Linked DNA regions of Homo sapiens. The protein of the gene in region 1 interacts with the protein of each later gene in a biochemical or structural test. Each region holds a gene or a part of one and is shown on either strand. Other genes may lie near its edges. The genes, in order: TAP1 and THOC5.

Region 1 (4,539 bases):
TACTCTGGCCCCAAAGGACGCTCCTCTGAGTATGCTTTCCGACGGACCGACTTATCATGAATAGAGGGTCAAAGAACAGGGTTAACTTCAAGTTAGAGGCTATTCCTCTCTAACAAAGCCGCCCCCAAGCCACGAGTGGTGGCAGTAGTCCAGAGCAGAAGCCAGCCAGCCAGTCTTGGGGCTGCCATCTGCCCCAGGCGCCCATCCTAAGCAAAGTCCCCCCAGTGGGCACATGGGAGTGGGCAGGGAAGACACAGGGAAGGGAGTAAGGCAGCATCTGGGCCAAGGAGAGGCCTTCCTGGGTCAAGCTAGGGAAGGGCATCACTAGTTAACACAGAACGCCCATTATCAGTGCTTGGGCTAAGAGTTGCCCAGTGGCAAGTTTATCAAAAGTCTGTGTGATGAGTTGGTCCTTCTCAATAAGTGCCTATATTTCCTTCTCCCAAGTGCTGTTCTACTTCACCCAGGGCACCATTTCCTCATCTCTTTGCACCATCCCCAACCCCCTTTCTTGATTTAACCAGCCCCCACTGTCCGGGACCAGAGTGAAAGCGAAAGCGCTTTAGAGTAGCTTCCCGTTGACGCTTCCAGCTAAGAGTCAAAGCACCCGCTTTTTCCACCAGCCTCGCGTGCCTGTTCCCTTCACGGACACTCTAGACGACCCCCCTCAGAAAAGAAATACTCTATGCTCATTGCGGGTTGCAAGCGCTGGCTGCTACAGGCGACCTCCCTGCGCTCCCGTTGGTCTCTGCATTCACTTCTCCGCGCGCGCTTCCAGGGTCCCCTGGCCGCTGCATCTCCTCCACCCCTCTGCCAACCCTCAAGCCCAGACCCATTACCCCGGTGTGGACTTCTCCCGCCCGGGGTAAGTCCCCGGTTGGTGCTCCCGCCCGCAGCATCCCTGCAAGGCACCGCTCTCCTCGCCGCCTGGGGCACTGGTTTCCAACCTGGGACAGCGCACAACGCGCAGCCGACAGCCCCGCCCCTTCGCGGCGCCGCCAGGAGGCGCCTGGGTGCTGCGGGGCTGCTTTGCGCGCGGCGCTAACGTGTGTAGGGCAGATCTGCCCCGAGACAAGTGACGAGGCAGCCCCGCCCTGAGGCTGGGGTGGGAAAACTGGTGCAAGTGGAAAGGCAGGAGGCAGGGAGAGGCGAGAAGGGTGTGCGTGATGGAGAAAATTGGGCACCAGGGCTGCTCCCGAGATTCTCAGATCTGATTTCCACGCTTGCTACCAAAATAGTCTGGGCAGGCCACTTTTGGAAGTAGGCGTTATCTAGTGAGCAGGCGGCCGCTTTCGATTTCGCTTTCCCCTAAATGGCTGAGCTTCTCGCCAGCGCAGGATCAGCCTGTTCCTGGGACTTTCCGAGAGCCCCGCCCTCGTTCCCTCCCCCAGCCGCCAGTAGGGGAGGACTCGGCGGTACCCGGAGCTTCAGGCCCCACCGGGGCGCGGAGAGTCCCAGGCCCGGCCGGGACCGGGACGGCGTCCGAGTGCCAATGGCTAGCTCTAGGTGTCCCGCTCCCCGCGGGTGCCGCTGCCTCCCCGGAGCTTCTCTCGCATGGCTGGGGACAGTACTGCTACTTCTCGCCGACTGGGTGCTGCTCCGGACCGCGCTGCCCCGCATATTCTCCCTGCTGGTGCCCACCGCGCTGCCACTGCTCCGGGTCTGGGCGGTGGGCCTGAGCCGCTGGGCCGTGCTCTGGCTGGGGGCCTGCGGGGTCCTCAGGGCAACGGTTGGCTCCAAGAGCGAAAACGCAGGTGCCCAGGGCTGGCTGGCTGCTTTGAAGCCATTAGCTGCGGCACTGGGCTTGGCCCTGCCGGGACTTGCCTTGTTCCGAGAGCTGATCTCATGGGGAGCCCCCGGGTCCGCGGATAGCACCAGGCTACTGCACTGGGGAAGTCACCCTACCGCCTTCGTTGTCAGTTATGCAGCGGCACTGCCCGCAGCAGCCCTGTGGCACAAACTCGGGAGCCTCTGGGTGCCCGGCGGTCAGGGCGGCTCTGGAAACCCTGTGCGTCGGCTTCTAGGCTGCCTGGGCTCGGAGACGCGCCGCCTCTCGCTGTTCCTGGTCCTGGTGGTCCTCTCCTCTCTTGGTAAGGGGAACGCAGGGCAAGAGGGGAGGACACAAGGGGACTGGGACAGGAATCAAAGGTAATTGTCAGTAAGGTAGAGTAGCGTGGGTTCTGGGAAATGTGGAGCAGGAGAAGGACTCCTAGCGTGGGTCTTGGAACACCACTTCGGTGTAGAAGAAACGGCACTGGACTGGCGGGGGCCAGAGGTTCTGGGCTCCATTGCTGACCGGGTCTTGATTCTTTGGGCCACGCCGGAAGCGGGGAAATCCTTTGCTCTGGGGCCGAAGGGCGGGGCATCCTCATCTCTAACAGGAGGCTTTTCTACTTCATGATCTCCAGCCTTCCTAATAAAATCCTGAAAGTTCTGGTAGAGCAACCACAGGGTAGTGAGTTCCAGGGCAGCCTATTTAGGTTCGGGATTGAGACGTCAGTGTTTCCTTTCTGCTGATGCCCTCCAGGATAATGGTGAGGGGGAGGAGGCGTGGTGGGGCCAGTCTGACTGGAACTGACCTACTTAGACTTAATATTTGTGCGTGACCTCTCTTCTCTTTCTCCAGGGGAGATGGCCATTCCATTCTTTACGGGCCGCCTCACTGACTGGATTCTACAAGATGGCTCAGCCGATACCTTCACTCGAAACTTAACTCTCATGTCCATTCTCACCATAGCCAGGTCTGGGGGCTGAAAATGGGGCACCCTGCAAATGAGGGAGTTGGAAGTTGGGGCTGCTGTCCGAAATGCACTTATATGGGGATACCTGGGACCTTCAGTCTGTTCCCTGAACACACCCTGATCCCCTTTTTTTCCGGGTTCTTTATAGTGCAGTGCTGGAGTTCGTGGGTGACGGGATCTATAACAACACCATGGGCCACGTGCACAGCCACTTGCAGGGAGAGGTGTTTGGGGCTGTCCTGCGCCAGGAGACGGAGTTTTTCCAACAGAACCAGACAGGTTTCTCCTGAAACTCTTTCATTATACGCCATGTACTGTTCATATCCTCATACATCTGCTTTGATCTCCCCCCTCCCCGCTCTCTCTCTCTCACACACACATACACACATTGTTCCTTCTCATTCTTGATATACCCTCTCCCTGTCTCTCTCTCTCTGTCTCTGTCTCTCTCTCTCTCTCTCTCACACACACACACACACAATTGTTTTTCTCATTCTTGATATACCTCAGGAGCAAAATATTGTCCTCCTTACCTTAAGAAAAACCTAGAGTTTTCATCTAGCATTTTCTTATAAATCTATTCCTATGTATCCTTAGATAGAAACCATAGAATTTCAAACCTGGAAATTTTGAGCTCATAGAGACCAACTGCCTCATCTGACAGAGAAGGAAACTGAGGCCAAGACCCTAAATGCTGAAACTGCACAGTTACATATGGCTAGAGACACACTTGGGGTTAGAACCCTGGTCTCTTGAGTGCTCCACAGACTTCGGCATGCTTTCTAGCAGCACTAGAAGCTGTACAGTTACATATGGCTAGAGATAGACCTGGGGTTAGAACCCTAGTCCCAGTGAGTGCTCCACAGACTTTGGCATGCTTCCTAGCAGCACCCTCCTCCTCCATCTCTGTTATGTGACCAGTTTAAGCTCTTCCTGCCTGTGTGTATAGCATGGGACATACAGGTTCTCTAGGGAACAGAAAGCTTTCAGGAAAATGGAAATTCACATGTGCATTAATGACTTTATAATTAAAATGAAGGTCAGGCCTTTCCTCTTTAACACTCATCTTCCCTGCACTGAGATTTGCAGACCTCTGGAGAACCCTAACCTTGTTTCCTGCAGCCTCCTTAGAACCCCATGTTGACACCCCTGACCCTGGCATCCTGGCTCATTGTTAGTTCGTCTCATCACTTGGAACCTGTCTGATTCACCTCACTCTCTTCTCCCCAACCCTGCAGGTAACATCATGTCTCGGGTAACAGAGGACACGTCCACCCTGAGTGATTCTCTGAGTGAGAATCTGAGCTTATTTCTGTGGTACCTGGTGCGAGGCCTATGTCTCTTGGGGATCATGCTCTGGGGATCAGTGTCCCTCACCATGGTCACCCTGATCACCCTGCCTCTGCTTTTCCTTCTGCCCAAGAAGGTGGGAAAATGGTACCAGGTATGTTCATGGAGTTGGCCCGCTCTACACAGACCCTCATCTCCCAGACTTGGCAGACTCAGTTCCTCTCACATTGCTTTCAGTCCAGCTTTCCTGGCACCCTTACTGATTCTCCATCTTCATGGAACACCCTGTCCCTGTGGTCCATGTTCCCAGGTTGCTCAACATTAACCTCCATACTCTCTGGGTCTTCTTTTCTAGCTTCTCCCCACAATCTGTCTTTAAGAATTTGATCCCCAACCCGTTCTGAGTCATTTTCCTCTTCCTCGTATTTCTTTAGCATCCAAGGGGCATAGCTGTGTCTCTTTCTCTTTTCTCCTTTTCCTCTGTCTCTTCTCACCTTTAATTTCCAAA
Region 2 (3,500 bases), on another chromosome or scaffold:
GGTTTATCTGCTATGACAGGCCAGACGCTGAGTCCTGGCAGAAACAACACAATATGCTGCGTTCTTGAGAAGCTGTGTCCAACTCCTGAGGAAAGGCAGGCTTCTGCTAAGGGGCCAGGCCCCCTGGATTTCTGCTCATGCCTCATATTTGGTACTTGCACACAAGAACAAGGGCAGCAGAGCCTGCAGACATGAGTCCCAGAGCAAGGACTCAAGTTGCCTGGGTCTAAAAGGCTACTAGGCTCAGAGAAAATGCAAAAGGTACGTAAACTCTTGTAAGTCTAAGACATTTTAGTGTCCTGAGTGGATAGAAGACAGGTCACAGCCCTGAGGGGACACATTCTGCCAGTTCAAAACTCCAAAGGCCATGACAGGCCTTTTTTTTTTTTTTTGAGACGGAGTTTTGCTCTTGTTGCCCAGGCTGGAGTGCAGTGGCATGATCTCAGCTCACCGCAACCTCTGCCTCCCTGGTTCAAGTGATTCTCCTGCCTCAGCCTCCTGAATAGCTGGGATTATAGGAACGTGCCACCACACCCAGCTAATTTTTTGTATTTTTAGTAGAGATGGGGTTTCATCATGTTGGCCAGGCTGGTCTCAAACTCCTGACCTCAGGTGATCCACCTGCCTCAGCCTCCCAAAGTACAAGGATTATAGGCATGAGCCACCGCACCTGGCCTGGCCTTTCTAGAGTCTATACAGGAAGAGAAGAGGTAAGCTCCTCAGCCAACTAGATGAGATCAGTGTACAGACCTGGGGCTGCTCTTTGGGGAAGTGGAGGCCACCCAGCTTCTGCACCCACAAATAGGGGTGACCTAGCTCAAGTACATAGTCGCTCAAAGTCAGGATGCTGCAGAAAAGAAGATAAATAAAATTGTGCTGTAAGTCATTTCTGCTGTGGTCCCAGGATACAGCCTCCTCCCACCCTCCCATGCCCCACAAACCATCCAGTCCTGCAGGTTTGGCCATGTTCACAGCCAGGCTGCTGGCAAAGCCCTTCAACTTTGTCAGTTCCCTACTGTGAATTTCATCTCTCTCACATTCACTTTCCTCTTTTTCCTTTTCTTCTTGCAGCCTTCAACTTATAAGCAAATATCAAATACAAAGGCAGTGTACTAATGTCTTTATTGGTCTACCAATTTAGAAAATCTTTTAAAAATTAATCCTCGGATAATTAAAATGTCAAACATTTTTATTGTATCACGTATTATTATGCTTCCAGAGGGTTTTTTTTGTTTTTCTTTTTGTTTTTGTTTTGAGACAGGGTCTGGCTCTGTTGCCCCCAGGCTGGAGTACAGCGACATGACCATGGCTCACTGCAGCCTCAACCTCCTGGGCTCATGCAATTCTCCCACCTCAACCTCCCCAGTAGCTGGGACTACAAATGCCCACCACCATGCCTGGCTAATTTTTGTATTTCTTGTAGAGACAGGGTTTTGCCATGTTGCCCAGGCTGGTATCGAACTCCTGAGCTCAAGGAATCCACCTGCTTTGGCCTTCCAAAGTGCTGGGATTACAGGCGTGAGCCACCACACCCAGCATGTTTCCGAGTTTTGATCCTTCCACCCTTTTTGTGATCTCCCTTTGCCTTGTAAGCAAGAAAGAACAAACATTTCCTTCTACCCTGTGGTCTTTCCTATCCTCTGGGTCACCTCTGGCCCTAACAGGTCTCCAGCATTTAGCTTGAGCCACCAGAGAAACTCAGAAGTAGAGAGCTCGGAGAGGAGGAAACTGCTGACTCACCCAACTTTATCAAACTGATACTGATTGGCTGGATTCGGAGTTTTCTTTCCATGATCCCCAGGATACAAGCAACTCAGGACTGAGTCAGGAGACAGCAAGTCACTAGAAAAGGAAAAACAGTAAGCAGTGAGAATGCAGCCAACATCTTTCTTCAACATAGGCTTGGGCATTTGGGGATGGTAATGCCACGTCTCACTGATGACCAATGCCACCATTTATTGAAGGCTTTCTGTGGGCCAGACCGTTTATATGCTTGAGGTCATTGCATCCTTACAACCCTATGAGGGAGGATTATCATTTCCATTTTATAGAGGAAAAACTCAAGGCTTTAAAAGATATGGCTTATTCAAGATCACACTGCTAGTAAGTGCTAGAGGTGGCTTTATATTGTCTGATCAAACAGACTAGTACTCTTAATCATTAATTTTTAAAAAACTCATCCCTTCAAGATTTATATGGTGCCTAAGGCCTTACCTCAGGGGAGCAAAGTCCCATGACACCATCAGTAGAAATAATTTCAATTTTCATAAAAGCAGAACAGACTCCTTTCTGCTACAGAGAGAACAAGTGTATAGCTTTGGTGCTATGTCTATCTCACTTTGACCAAATCTTATGCTCATCACAGGAAAAGGCCCCCTGTATGTTCCCAGAAAAAGATACAATCACATACACTGGAGACCCACAGCTACAAGCGGAGAGAAATAGTGACGCCACTGCCACCCACCTGGGATGGTTCGGGCACAGTTTGTCATTAAATGTGACAAGCAAAAAAGAGATAATGTGGGAGGGTAATGTAGTAATTTTATCACAAAGGATGACAAGGCCCATTCTTTCCCTGAACCAAAGGGGGTTCTCCTTCATCTTTCCATGGATAACGTCAGGAGCAACTTGGGCAGCACGTGCCGGTCCTGCGTTTTGGCCCCAGCATGCCTTCAGGAACTCCATGCTAGGACAGTGGAGGCTTCCAGCTCTTCCCTACTGTGTCTCACTGAGTATCCCTGTTCCCCAAGGTCTTTGCCCCCTTCACCACCTCAAATGGAGAACTGACTACCAAACAAATAAAACATTTCAGGCCAGGCACAGTGGCTCACGCCTGTAATCCCAGCACTTTGAGAGGCCGAGACGGGCGGATCATGAGGTCAGGAGATCGAGACCATCCTGGCTAACACGGTGAAACCCCGTCTCTGCTAAAAATACAAAAAAAAAAAAAAAATTAGCTGGGCATGGTGGCGGGCGCCTATAGTCCCAGCTACTTGGGAGGCTGAGGCAGGAGAATGGTGTGAACCCGGGAGACGGAGCTGGCAATAAGCCAAGATTGCACCACTGCACTCTAGCCTGGGTGACAGAGCGAGACTCTGTCTCAAAAAAATAAATAAAATAAAATAAAATAAAATAAAATAAAACTTTTCAGTCTTTTAGCAAGTGTTTAGGGACTATTACTAATAGATTGATTCAATCTATTAGTAAATAAATAAAACAGAACTAAAACTGCCCACGATGAAGGTTATTAATTGACAAAACCTGATGAAGGAATCACCTTCTTGGCAAAATTTATATCTGCAACATATGGCTAAGACAACTGAACTTGGTAAAAATGATGAACATAAAAGGAAAGGCTATTTATAGTCATAAAAATATAACACCAAAACAAAAAAACTTCTCAACCAGTCAAATCTTTGTTATAAAATTTTGATAAAAAGTAAGGGATTAAAAAAACCTTAGTGGCCGGGCGTGGTGGCTCACGCCTGTAATCCCAGCAC

The links.
Region 2: the proteins of TAP1 (region 1) and THOC5 form a complex in vitro, tested with the Homo sapiens proteins (one study listed by IntAct).

What each region holds. Positions count from the first base shown.
Region 1 is NC_000006.12:32,850,590-32,855,128, reverse strand, and holds the start of TAP1 (antigen peptide transporter 1), read left to right. Parts: upstream 1-1,424; 5' UTR 1,425-1,492; coding exon 1,493-2,090; intron 2,091-2,367; exon of another isoform or gene 2,368-2,534; intron 2,535-2,626; coding exon 2,627-2,741; intron 2,742-2,889; coding exon 2,890-3,020; intron 3,021-3,979; coding exon 3,980-4,185; intron 4,186-4,539. Other genes in the region: PSMB9 (proteasome subunit beta type-9 precursor), read right to left, coding at 840-899. UniProt on the Homo sapiens protein: ABC transporter associated with antigen processing. In complex with TAP2 mediates unidirectional translocation of peptide antigens from cytosol to endoplasmic reticulum (ER) for loading onto MHC class I (MHCI) molecules.
Region 2 is NC_000022.11:29,519,258-29,522,757, forward strand, and holds part of THOC5 (THO complex subunit 5), read right to left. Parts: intron 1,843-3,500; coding exon 1,741-1,842; intron 848-1,740; coding exon 751-847; intron 1-750. UniProt on the Homo sapiens protein: Component of the THO subcomplex of the TREX complex which is thought to couple mRNA transcription, processing and nuclear export, and which specifically associates with spliced mRNA and not with unspliced pre-mRNA.